Linked DNA regions of Homo sapiens: region 2 is linked to region 1. The links come from fine-mapping of genetic effects on gene expression. A gene starts in region 1. The other region holds a variant in brackets. All regions are shown on one strand. Distances are between the middles of the regions. Region 1 holds the start of TNFRSF10B (TNF receptor superfamily member 10b). Region 2 overlaps TNFRSF10C (TNF receptor superfamily member 10c).

The links. PIP is the estimated chance that this variant, and not a neighbour inherited with it, causes the effect.
Region 2: its variant is fine-mapped to the expression of TNFRSF10B in T cells (GENCORD, PIP 0.95).

The regions. Positions count from the first base shown.
Region 1 is chr8:23,066,567-23,071,941 of GRCh38, forward strand. TNFRSF10B (TNF receptor superfamily member 10b) reads right to left here and starts at 2,465. Exons shown (of 9, transcript NM_003842.5): 1 at 2,185-2,465. The coding sequence starts at 2,328. It also overlaps the pseudogene TNFRSF10B-AS1. RefSeq lists promoters at 1-3,557, 2,325-2,995, enhancers at 1,849-2,108, 2,649-2,698, 2,719-2,888, 3,670-3,964, 4,286-4,785 and a cis regulatory region at 2,450-2,455.
Region 2 is chr8:23,111,457-23,116,819 of GRCh38, forward strand. It overlaps TNFRSF10C (TNF receptor superfamily member 10c), which reads left to right. Exons shown (of 5, transcript NM_003841.5): 2 at 264-369; 3 at 3,201-3,314; 4 at 4,052-4,160; 5 at 5,185-5,363. Among named protein-coding and RNA genes, the nearest start is that of TNFRSF10C, 11 kb to the left of the region's middle. The variant G/A (reference allele first, on the strand shown) is at 3,238.

The DNA.
Region 1 (5,375 bases):
AAGAGACAGAGTATTTGAAGAAATAATGGCTGAAAATCTTCCAAGTAGAACATAAACTCGGCTGGGCGTGGTGGCTCACCCCTGTAATCCCAGCATTTTGGGAGGCTGAGGCGGGCAGATCACGAGCCAGACCATCCTGGCTAACACGGTGAAACCCCGTCTCTACTAAAAATACAAAAAGTTCGCTGGGCGTGGTGGTGCATGCCTGTAGTCCCAGCTACACGGGATGCTGAGGCAGGAGAATGGCGTGAACCCAGGAGGCAGAGGTTGCAGTGAGCTGAGATCCCACCACTGCACTCCAGCCTAGGCGACAGAGGCAAGACTCCATCTCAAAACAAACAAACAAACAAACAAAAACATAAACTCTAAAACCCCAAATCCAAGAAATTCAACATAACTCTGTTGTGGCTTTCTTTCTTTCTTTTTTTTGAGTTGGAGTCTTGCTCTTGTCTCCCAGGCTGGAGTGCAGTGGCGCCATCTCTGCTCACTGCAACTTCTGCCTCCCAGGTTCAAGTGATTCTCCTGCCTCAACCTCCCAAGTAGCTGGGATTGCAGGTGCCCACCACCACACCCAGCTAATTTTGTATTTTTAGTAGAGACGGGGTTTCACCATGTTGGTCAGGCTGGTCTCGAATCCCTGACCTCATGTGATCTGCCCGCCTCGGCCTCCCAAAGTGCTGGGATTACAGGCATGAGCTACCAGACCCGGCTGTTGTGGCTTTCTTTACAGAAAAGTCTCCAAGGAGAACATAAACTCTAAAACCCCAAATCCAAGAAATTCAACACAACCCAGTTGTGGCTTTCTTTACAGAAAAATCTTCCAAGTAGAAAGAACATGAAAGTCTAAAGCCAAAAATCCAAAAAATTCTTTATAGAGATAAAAAAAAAACCCCACAACAGAGCAAACAAACCAAATCACTGCAAACCAGTGCTAAGAAAAATCTTTAAAAGCAGCCAGAGACCAAAGATCCACCACCCAAAGAGAGGCAAGATGCCCTGGGGACCTAGGCCCACAGAAACCACAGCAGGAGGGGGAGGCAGAGGCCCCTGTACACTCTCCTCACTAGGACAGTTAGGTCCTCCCTCCACTCAGAGGTGAGACCAAGGACATACTGTGGTGTGGGGCGGAAACAGTGAAAACATGAGGTGTGTAACAATATCCCATGAAACTCCAATGCTTCACACTGACATTCTTCTAGGTCAACACCAGCATTCTCTTGACCTTCCTTTCACTGTTCCTCCTCTCCCTTCCAGCCCCTCTGTACAGTCTTGAGTTAGGTCTAGGCCCACACACTTCCCCACTCTGAGCTGCGGTCTCTTCCTCTGTAAAATGTGATGATTCAGAACCTCTCCTGGCCCCAAGCGCAGTTCCAGGCGCTGAGCACACCATGCTGTTCCCTACAAAGCCGACTCTTTGTCCCTTCCCCATTATCACGGATACTTGCCAAGAGGTGGCAAGAAAGGCTCTTCCCAGGCCAAAATGCAGCTGCTATTATCAAGCAGGTCAGGCCCCAAGTGCCACAACTCCCTTCTCCTAAATCTCGTTTTCCCAAGGAACCCCAAACAATGGCATTGGCGATGAGCGGCCCCGCACGCGTAGGGGCGCAGCCGCTAAGGAGGGGAAGGGGCCTCTCCAGCTGCGCCCGCGACGACTCCCGCGCACGGAACGGAACCACTGGGCCGCAGCGACCACAGGGGAGTTCTTCGCCGGCCGCAGGTTCAAAGCGATCTGCAATGAGCGCCTTTAGGAATTCATTCGAAGGCGCAAAAGAAAAAGAAATTAAGGCAGGAACTGAGCGAGGAAGGAAGGGAGGGAAAGAAAGGAAGAAAGAGAAAAAGAGAAAGAAACAGAAAGTAAGGAAAGAAAACAAAATCAAAGTCCGACGACCTCTCCGTGGCTTCACGCAGCTTACTCGGGAATTCCCTCCTTGTCGCCCTCCCCCACTGGATTCGGGAATTTACACCAAGTGGAGCGCGCGCTCTGTTCCCTGGCGGCCCAGGTCGCTCCTGCCCAACCCGGGGACCCATCTCTTCCCCCGACTCCGACGACTGGTGCGTCTTGCCCGGACATGCCCGGCCGCAGGCGACCCGGGCCACGCACCCCCGCCGTGTCCCCCTCTCTCCCTGCCCTCTCCAGGCGCCAGGCACGCTCTTCCCCAGCCAGGGACCGCGGCGGGGACTCACCAACAGCAGGACCGCGGCGACAACGAGCACAAGGGTCTTGGGGACCCGGGGCCCAGGCCTGGCTCCCCGCGCCTCCCTGGGTCCTGGGCCGTGCCTTTTCCGGGCCCCCGAAGCGGCCGGGGCGTTCTGTCCCCGTTGTTCCATGGCGGTAGGGAACGCTCTTATAGTCTCTCAGGCCCGTGGGTTTCAGCCCTTAAAGTAGATCGGGCATCGTCGGTGTATTTTGTGGGCGCAGAGATTGCGGGGTTCTCCGGCCGCGTGCTGATTTATGTGTCCAGGCTGACTTGGGGCGGCGCGGCTGTACTTTCACTGCCTCCGGGCAGGCGTCATTCGGGGCGGGGCGAATCAGATCCAATGTGCAACTGCAAATTCCACCACAGGTTGGTGACAATAAATAAGAGTCTCGTCAACGCAATCCTCCGCAAGCGCGTCCAAGTGGGGAGGGGAGGGGAAGGGACCGGAACTAACCTTCGCCCTGGCGGCTGCGCCCCGGGCTGTGGTTTGTTTCTGGGTCCTGTCCGCGCCAGGACAGGCACCGAAACTTGGGGGAAATGAGTTGAGGGAGGCACTTGGGGAGTTGACGCCTCCCGGGGTCGCGCGCTTGGCTGTGAACAGGGTCTTGAGGTTCAGAGTCCGCTTTCCAGGCGCGTCTTGATCTTCTCCCCTTCCCAGGGGCACCTGCCCCTTCTGTTCTCTCCTTCTCTCTTCTTTCCTTTTTTCTTTCGTTTTCTTTCGTTCTTTCGTCTTCTTTCCGTCCTTCCTGCTTTCTCTTTCCTTCCTTTCTCTCTTTCTCTTTCCTCCCTCCCTCCCCCTCCCCCTACCTCCCTTCCTTGTGGTTTATTTTTTGAGACAGTCTCTCTGTGGCTCAGATTGGTGAGCGGTGGTGTGATCCCGGCTCACTGCAACTTCCGTCTCCCAGGTTCAAGCGATACTCCCACCTCAGCCTCCCATGTAGCTGGGACTACAGGCCTGCACCACCACGCCTGGCTAATTTTTGTATTTTTAGTAGACACAGGGGTTCACTATGTTGGCCAAAAGACCATCGAACCCAGCTTACACTCACACCTAGTCCACAAATGTGCCTGTGTCCCTGCACCCTTGCTACACTTAGCTTTCATTTGTCACTAGTCTAGGAAATAAAACATGATACATCACATTGTTATGTATTTTCATTCCTTCATGGTACTGTGTCCGGAATTGGTGGGTTCTTGGTCTCACTGCCTTCAAGAATGAAGCCTCGGACCCTCGCGGTGAGTGTTACAGTTCTTAAAGGCGGCGTGTCTGGAGTTTGTTCCTTCTGATGTTCGGATGTGTTCGGAGTTTCTTCCTTCTGGTGGGTTCGTGGTCTCACTGGCTCAGGAGTGAAGCTGCAGACCTTCCCAGTGAGTGTTACAGCTCTTAAGGCAGTGGGTCTGGAGTTGTTCTTTCCTCCTGGTGGGCTCGTGGTCTCGCTGGCTTCAAGAGTGAAGCTGCAGACCTTCAAGGTGAGTGTTACAGCTCATAAAGGCAGTGTGGACCCAAAGAGTGAGCAGTAGCAAGATTTATTGCAGAGGGAAAGAAGGAAGCTTCCACAGTGTTACCACTGCTGGCTCTGGCAGCCTGCTTTTATTCTCTTATCTGGCCCCACCCACACCCTGCTGATTGGTAGAGCGGAGTGGTCTGTTTTGACAGGGCGCTGATTGGTGGTTTACAATCCCTGAGCTAGACACAAATGTTCTCCACTTCCCCACCAGATTAGCTAGATACAGAGTGTGGACACAAAGGTTCTCCAAGGCCCCACCAGACTAGCTAGATACAGAGTGTCAATTGGTGCATTCACAAACCCTGAGCTAGACACACGGTGCTGATTGGTGTGTTTACAAAACTTGAGCTAGATACACAGTGCCAATTGGTGTATTTACAATCCCTTAGCTAAACATAAAGGTTCTCCACGTCCCCACCAGACTCAGGAGCCCAGGTGTCGTCACCCAGTGGATCCCGCACCGGGGTTGCAGGTGGAGCTGCCTGCCAGTCCCGCGCCGTGCTCCCGCGCCGTGCGCCCGCACTCCTCAGCCCTTGGGTGGTCGATGGGACTGGGCGCCCTGGAGCAGGGGGAGGTGCTCGTCGGGGAGGCTCCGGCTGCACAGGAGCCCACGGAGGGGGTGAGAGGCTCAGGCATGGCGGTCCCGAGCCCTGCCCGTCGGGAAGGCAGCTAAGGCCCGGCGAGAAATCAAGCGCAGCGCCAGTGGGCCGGCACTGCTGGGGGACCCAGTACACCCTCCGCAGCCGCTGGCCCGGGTGCTAAACCCCTCATTGCCCGGGGCCGGCAGGGCCGGCCGGCTGCTCCGAGTGCAGGGCCCGCCGAGCCCACGCCCACCCGGAACTCCAGCTGGCCCGCAAGTGCCGCGCGCGCAGCCCCGGTTCCCGCTCGCGCCTCTCCCTCCACACCTCCGTGCAAGCTGAGGGAGCGGGCTCCAGCCTTGGCCAGCCCAGAAAAGGGCTCCCACAGTGCAGCGGTGGGCTGAAGGGCTCCTCAAGTGCCGCCAAAGTGGGAGCCCAGGCAGAGGAGGCGCCGAGAGCGAGCGAGGGCTGTTGAGGACTGCCAGCAAGCTGTCACCTCTCAGTACTACGGATTTTCAAGAATACAGGAGTTTTTGGTACTGGGAGTAGATGACTGGGGGGATCCAGGCAAGACTACAGGGGAGGGCGGCAGAGAAGACTTAATTCCCAGCTGTGTACTTGGAAAACCGTGCTCAGCTGGGGCCAGTCCCTGCCAACCGCCATGCCTGTTAATGGAAATAAGGTCTCCATCCTCAGGCTGTCAGGGTGACTTCAGATGAGCCTGGAGCTGAGCTCAGTTCCGGACCCCAGGTCCTGGCTCTGTCAATGCCGGACTGGTCCAATCTCTATGCCAGGTCCTTCCAACCCCATCCCTCTCTTTATCAAAGTAGGAATCAAGAAGATCCGAAGGCTCAGGCTCTCAGGTTGTTAGAGAGTACTGAAATTGGAGGCTGTGGATGGCTGGGCCCTGCCGTGCTCCCGGTCCAGCTCTGACTCTGGTATGGCCCCAGCTCCTTCCTGTAAAATGAGGGGATAAAAATCTTCAGCAGCCCTGTGTAAACTTCTGCAGGCTCTGTTAACAGGTCTAGGAGGACAAATTGCAGGGCTGGTGTCAGTCACTCTAGACTCTGGATCCCCAGGGCACATGTCCT
Region 2 (5,363 bases), 45 kb after region 1:
CACCTGCCTCAGACTTCCACATTGCTGGGATTACAAGCTTGAGCCATCGCGCTTGCCTGTATTTTTTTTTTTTTTTATAGAAAATAGCTGGCCCTAACAGGCCAAGGGACAAACACAGGTATGAAAGAATGAAAGTTTGGAGCTGGAAAAAATGTCCAAGCTCTGATGGGTTTTGTCACTTGGGGTGAAGGGAATGTGAGATGGAGCCTGGGAGGGGTGAGGTCTGGAAGTCACTCACACCCATCACTCCTTTGTCCCCACAGGTCCTAGCTTACTCTGCCACCACTGCCCGGCAGGAGGAAGTTCCCCAGCAGACAGTGGCCCCACAGCAACAGAGGCACAGCTTCAAGGGGGAGGAGTGTCCAGCAGGTGCACTCTTATTTTTAAAAATCAGTTTATTTTTAATTGACAGATAAACATTGTATGTATTTATGATGTACACCATGATGTTTTGAAATATGTACGCATTGTGGAATGGCTAAATCAAGCTAATTCACATACTTAATCATGTATTCGTGGTAAGAACACTTAAAAATCTGCTCAGCAATTTTCAGCTGTATGGATACAGAGCCCTGGGATAAGCCCTCTTTGCCCTTTTTATCTGTGGGTTCTGTAGCCTTCCTTATCTATGGGTTCTGTATCCATGGTTGCAACAAACCACAGATCAAAAATATGCGGAAGAAATAAAAATGATAATACATCAATAAAAGCAGATAAAAAGCAATGCAGTATAGCACTTATTTACATAGCATGTCTATTGCATTAGGTATTACAAGTAATCTAGAGATGATTTAAAGCATATGTGCGTGGGTTTTATGCAATACTATCCCAATTTATATCAGGGACTTGAGTATATGCAGAGTTTGTTCCATGGAATATATTCCCTGTGGATAGAAGGCAGGACTGTACAACACATTGTTTTAATAACTGTAGTCGCCATGTCACACAATACATCTCTTGAATTTATTCTCCCTGTCTAACTGAAATTTTGTATCCTTTGACTAACATCTCCCCATCCCACCATCCAACTCAAGCCCTGGTAATCACCATTCTGCTCTCCACCTCTATGAGACCAACTTTTTCTGATTCCACATATGTGAGATCATGAGGTGTTTGCCTTTCTGTGCCTGGCTTATTTCACTTAGCATAGTATCCTCCAGCTTCATCCATGCTGACACAAATGACAGAACTCCCTTCTTTTTAAAGGCTGAATAGTATTCCATTGTATCTATGTGTCACATTTTCTTTAACTTTTCATCCATCCATGGACACGTAGGTTGATTCCATGTCTTGACCATTGTAAATAATGCTCCAATGCATATGGGAGGGAAGATATCTCTTCAATATACTGACGTCATTTCCTTTGGATGTATACCCAATAGTGGGATTGCTAGATCATATAGTTGTTCTATTTTTTGTTTTTTGAGGAACCTCCATACTGTTTTCCATAATGGCTGTACTAATTTCCATTCCCACCAACAGTGTACCAGCATTCCTTTTTCTCCCCATCATCAACACTTGTTACCTTTTGTCTTTTTGGTAATAGCCATTCTTACAGGTGTGAAGTGATATTTGGCACTTGATGGTTAGTGATGCTGAGCATTTTTTTCATATACTTTTTGGCCACTTCTATGTCTCCTTTTGAGAAGTGTCTATTCAGGTCCCACGCCCATGTATCCATTTTACTTGGATTATTTGATTGTGTGCTATTGAGATGTTTGAGTTCCTGTGTATTTTGGATTTTAACCAAAATCTTGGATCTTTTGAATATTGACCCTCATTCTGTAGGTTGTCTCTTCACTCTGTTCATTGTTTCCTTTGTCATGCAGAACCTTTTTAGTGTAATGTAACCTCATTTGTCTGTTTTTCCTTTTGTTGCCTGTGCTTTTGGGGTCATAGTCAAGAAACCATTGCCCAGACCAACATCATGAAAATTTTCCCCTATGTATTCTTGTGGTAGTTTTACCATTTCAGATCTTATGTTTTAATCTTTAGTCCATTTTGAATTAATTTTTACATATGATGTGAGATAAAGGTCTTATTTCATTCTTCTGCATGTCAATACCTACTTTTCTCAACACCATTTATTGAAGAGCTGTCCTTTCCCCATTTTGTGTTCTTGGTATCTTTCTCACAATCAATCAACTGTAAATGCATTGATTTATACCTGGGTTCACTATTTTGTTCCATCAGTTTATTTACCATTGTTGTGCCATTACCATTCAGTTTTGATTACTATACTTTTGTAACACGTTTTAAAATCAGGTAGTACGATGCCTCCATCTTTGTTCTTTTGTTTGTTTTGCTTAAGATCACTTTGGCTATTTGAGGTCTTTTGTAGTTCCATACAAATCTGGGCGTGGTGGTGCGTCGCCTATAATCCCAGCTACTCGGGAGGCTGAGGCAGAAAAATCGCTTGAACCAGGGAGTTGGAGGTTGCAGTGAGCCGAGATTGTGCCACTGCACTCCAGCCAGGTGACAGAGCAAGACTCTGTCTCAAAAAAAAAAAAAAAGACACATGAATATACATAACAGTCAGGATGTCCTGATGGGAACCATGAAGAATAGTTAAGTGACAGGAGATAGACAAGGTTGGTGGGGCCTCTCGGGGATGGTGATTTGGGCTGATATTTAAAGTTGGACAGGGCCAGTCTTGCAGAGAGCCAGGAAGAGTGCTCTTGAGAAGGCCCTGAAGGAATGAGAACCCCAGGTTTCGGGGGCTTGGGGAGACTGAGCGAAGACAGGGGGCCACTGTGGTGAGTGGACAGCAAACAGGTCAGGTGGACCAGCATGGGCAGATCACATGTACAGTAGGTTGGATGTTATTTTGTGAGTGACGGCGTAAAAAAAGTAAAATATCTCAATGATGTGTATTGATTACATGTTGAAATGTAGTATTTCAGATATTTTAGGTTAAAACTATATTGTTAAAATTAATTTGGCCTCATTCTTTTTACTATTTTAATATGGCTCTCATAGAATTTGAATTTTGCATAGAATTTGAATTTTGTATTATATTTCTGTCAGCAGTGCCAGTCAAAGGTATGTAATAGATGCTGAATGGATGACAAGACCAAGCCTGGAAGAGTGGATTTCTCTGTCTCAATTCCAGTGAGGGCCAAAAAAGAAGTTTCCCCACCACTGTCAGCCTCTGGGAATTCTGTGGTGACTCATTCATTGGCTTTTCTCTTCCTTCCCAGGATCTCATAGATCAGAACATACTGGAGCCTGTAACCC[G/A]TGCACAGAGGGTGTGGATTACACCAACGCTTCCAACAATGAACCTTCTTGCTTCCCATGTACAGTTTGTAAATCAGGTACAGAATGTGTGGACCTCTTGTCCAGAGGTGGAGCGTGGGGCAATGAGGTGGGAGTTGTAGCCGATATGAGTCAGGGAACCAAGTTCCAGCCCAACCTGGTCTTCATCACCCTGTTCTATGATTATATATTTGACTGATTAAAAAAATAGAAAGAAATCTTTTCTATAATGCATGCCACCTGGCTGGGAAATCGTCTAAACTGTCAGCTGCAAGAGGGTGGGGGGATCATTAGAGCATAGAGAAGGCCTGGCCCAGTGGACAGGGCTAGGTTTCAGTAGTGGCACGGGTCTGCTCCAGGGCCAGGCTCTCTCCCCCAGGCTCTGTGCTCCTGGCAGGTGCTCGGCCTCACTCAGCCTTCAGGTTCTCAGGCCCCTTCCTCCTCCCCAGCAGGCCCAGGCTTTGGGGAAGTCCCCCAAGGCCTCCGTCTCCTTGCAGAGTCTCTCAGGTGATGCCCTTGCACCTCCCTTGCTACTGACCATGCCATCTAAACAATGCTTTTCCCCTAATCTGATGTAATAAATAATGAATTATGCTCCTTTTTATGACTCCTCTGAGTGCTGGTGACAGCTGAAGGGTGGGTGTCCTGTATGAGCCCTGAGTGTGCTGGTGCAGAAACTGGCCCTTAGAACTCCTTGGTGAACTTGGTTGAGCTGAGTGGGAGGGGGTGGGTGGTAAGGAAGATCGAGGGATACATCAGGGAAACACATTCCCAAAACCTTATGCTCTGTTGTCAGATCAAAAACATAAAAGTTCCTGCACCATGACCAGAGACACAGTGTGTCAGTGTAAAGAAGGCACCTTCCGGAATGAAAACTCCCCAGAGATGTGCCGGAAGTGTAGCAGGTGAGACAGCAGTCAGGGGCTCCTGACAGCTTTCAGGAACCCGAGAAGACCTGAGTCACCTGGTACCCCTATTTCTCCGCTGACCCTATGGAGCCTCCAGACCCATGGGGTGTCCCTGAGCCTGTGGGGTCTCTTGGGTCTGCAGTGGCCGCTCCTGGTCCATCTGCCTGTCCCCACCCCTACCCCCTGCAGCAGCCCCTTCCCAGACCCTCCCCAGCACGAGTCCCCTTGGCCAGACCAACTTGTTCACTGGGCACAAGAAGCAACTTTCTGGATCCCTTGATCCTTTTCAGCAAACCTAGGAAATGCGATTTCCTTTTGAAATGAGAAGAAAACACTTGAATCCAGTCTGGGTTGTATTTGTTGCTATACCAAGCTGTTTTAAAAAATGTTCTTTTTAATATTTTTTATGCAGGCAGGACCCATAAAGACAAAAGTGGTCACGGCCGACAAAAGTCATAAGAAGGCTGTGGGTGGAGCTCCTTCAAGTTCCCATGAAGGCCTGAGCCAATCCAGCCGGCCTCACCCCTGGCCCCAATCCCTCAATAAGTCCTGTCTTTTCCCTATTTGGGCTTTAAGGGCCAAGAGTAATTTGTTCTTCTCTGGCCCCCTAATGTTTGCCGTGATAGGGAGGAACCAGCAGACAGTTGGGGGTGAGAGATCACTTGTACTGTGGGTTGACTGGAGGAAGGGGCTCAGCTTGTGGCCACAAGGGCTCGTGACCTTCCCCTGGAGTGTGGCTCCTCCTAACGCAGGCCTCCTCTGCAGCCCAGGGAAGCTCAGTGTGTGCCCGGCACAGAAGGCTCCTGTGGCCCCAGAGCAGGGAGGCTGAGGGGCTGAAATGCGCATGCTCAGACCCTTCCCCAGCCTCAACGAGGGAACTTGGGGGACCCCCTCCAGACAGGAGCCTGTCCTTCCCCTGACACCTTCTCAGGGACATTGGAGAGGGAGGGTGGCTCCCCTTTTATCCCACCTGGCTAGCTTTCCCTCAGGAGTCCTCACCTCCCTCTCTGTGTGTACCCAGGTGCCCTAGTGGGGAAGTCCAAGTCAGTAATTGTACGTCCTGGGATGATATCCAGTGTGTTGAAGAATTTGGTGCCAATGCCACTGTGGAAACCCCAGCTGCTGAAGAGACAATGAACACCAGCCCGGGGACTCCTGCCCCAGCTGCTGAAGAGACAATGAACACCAGCCCGGGGACTC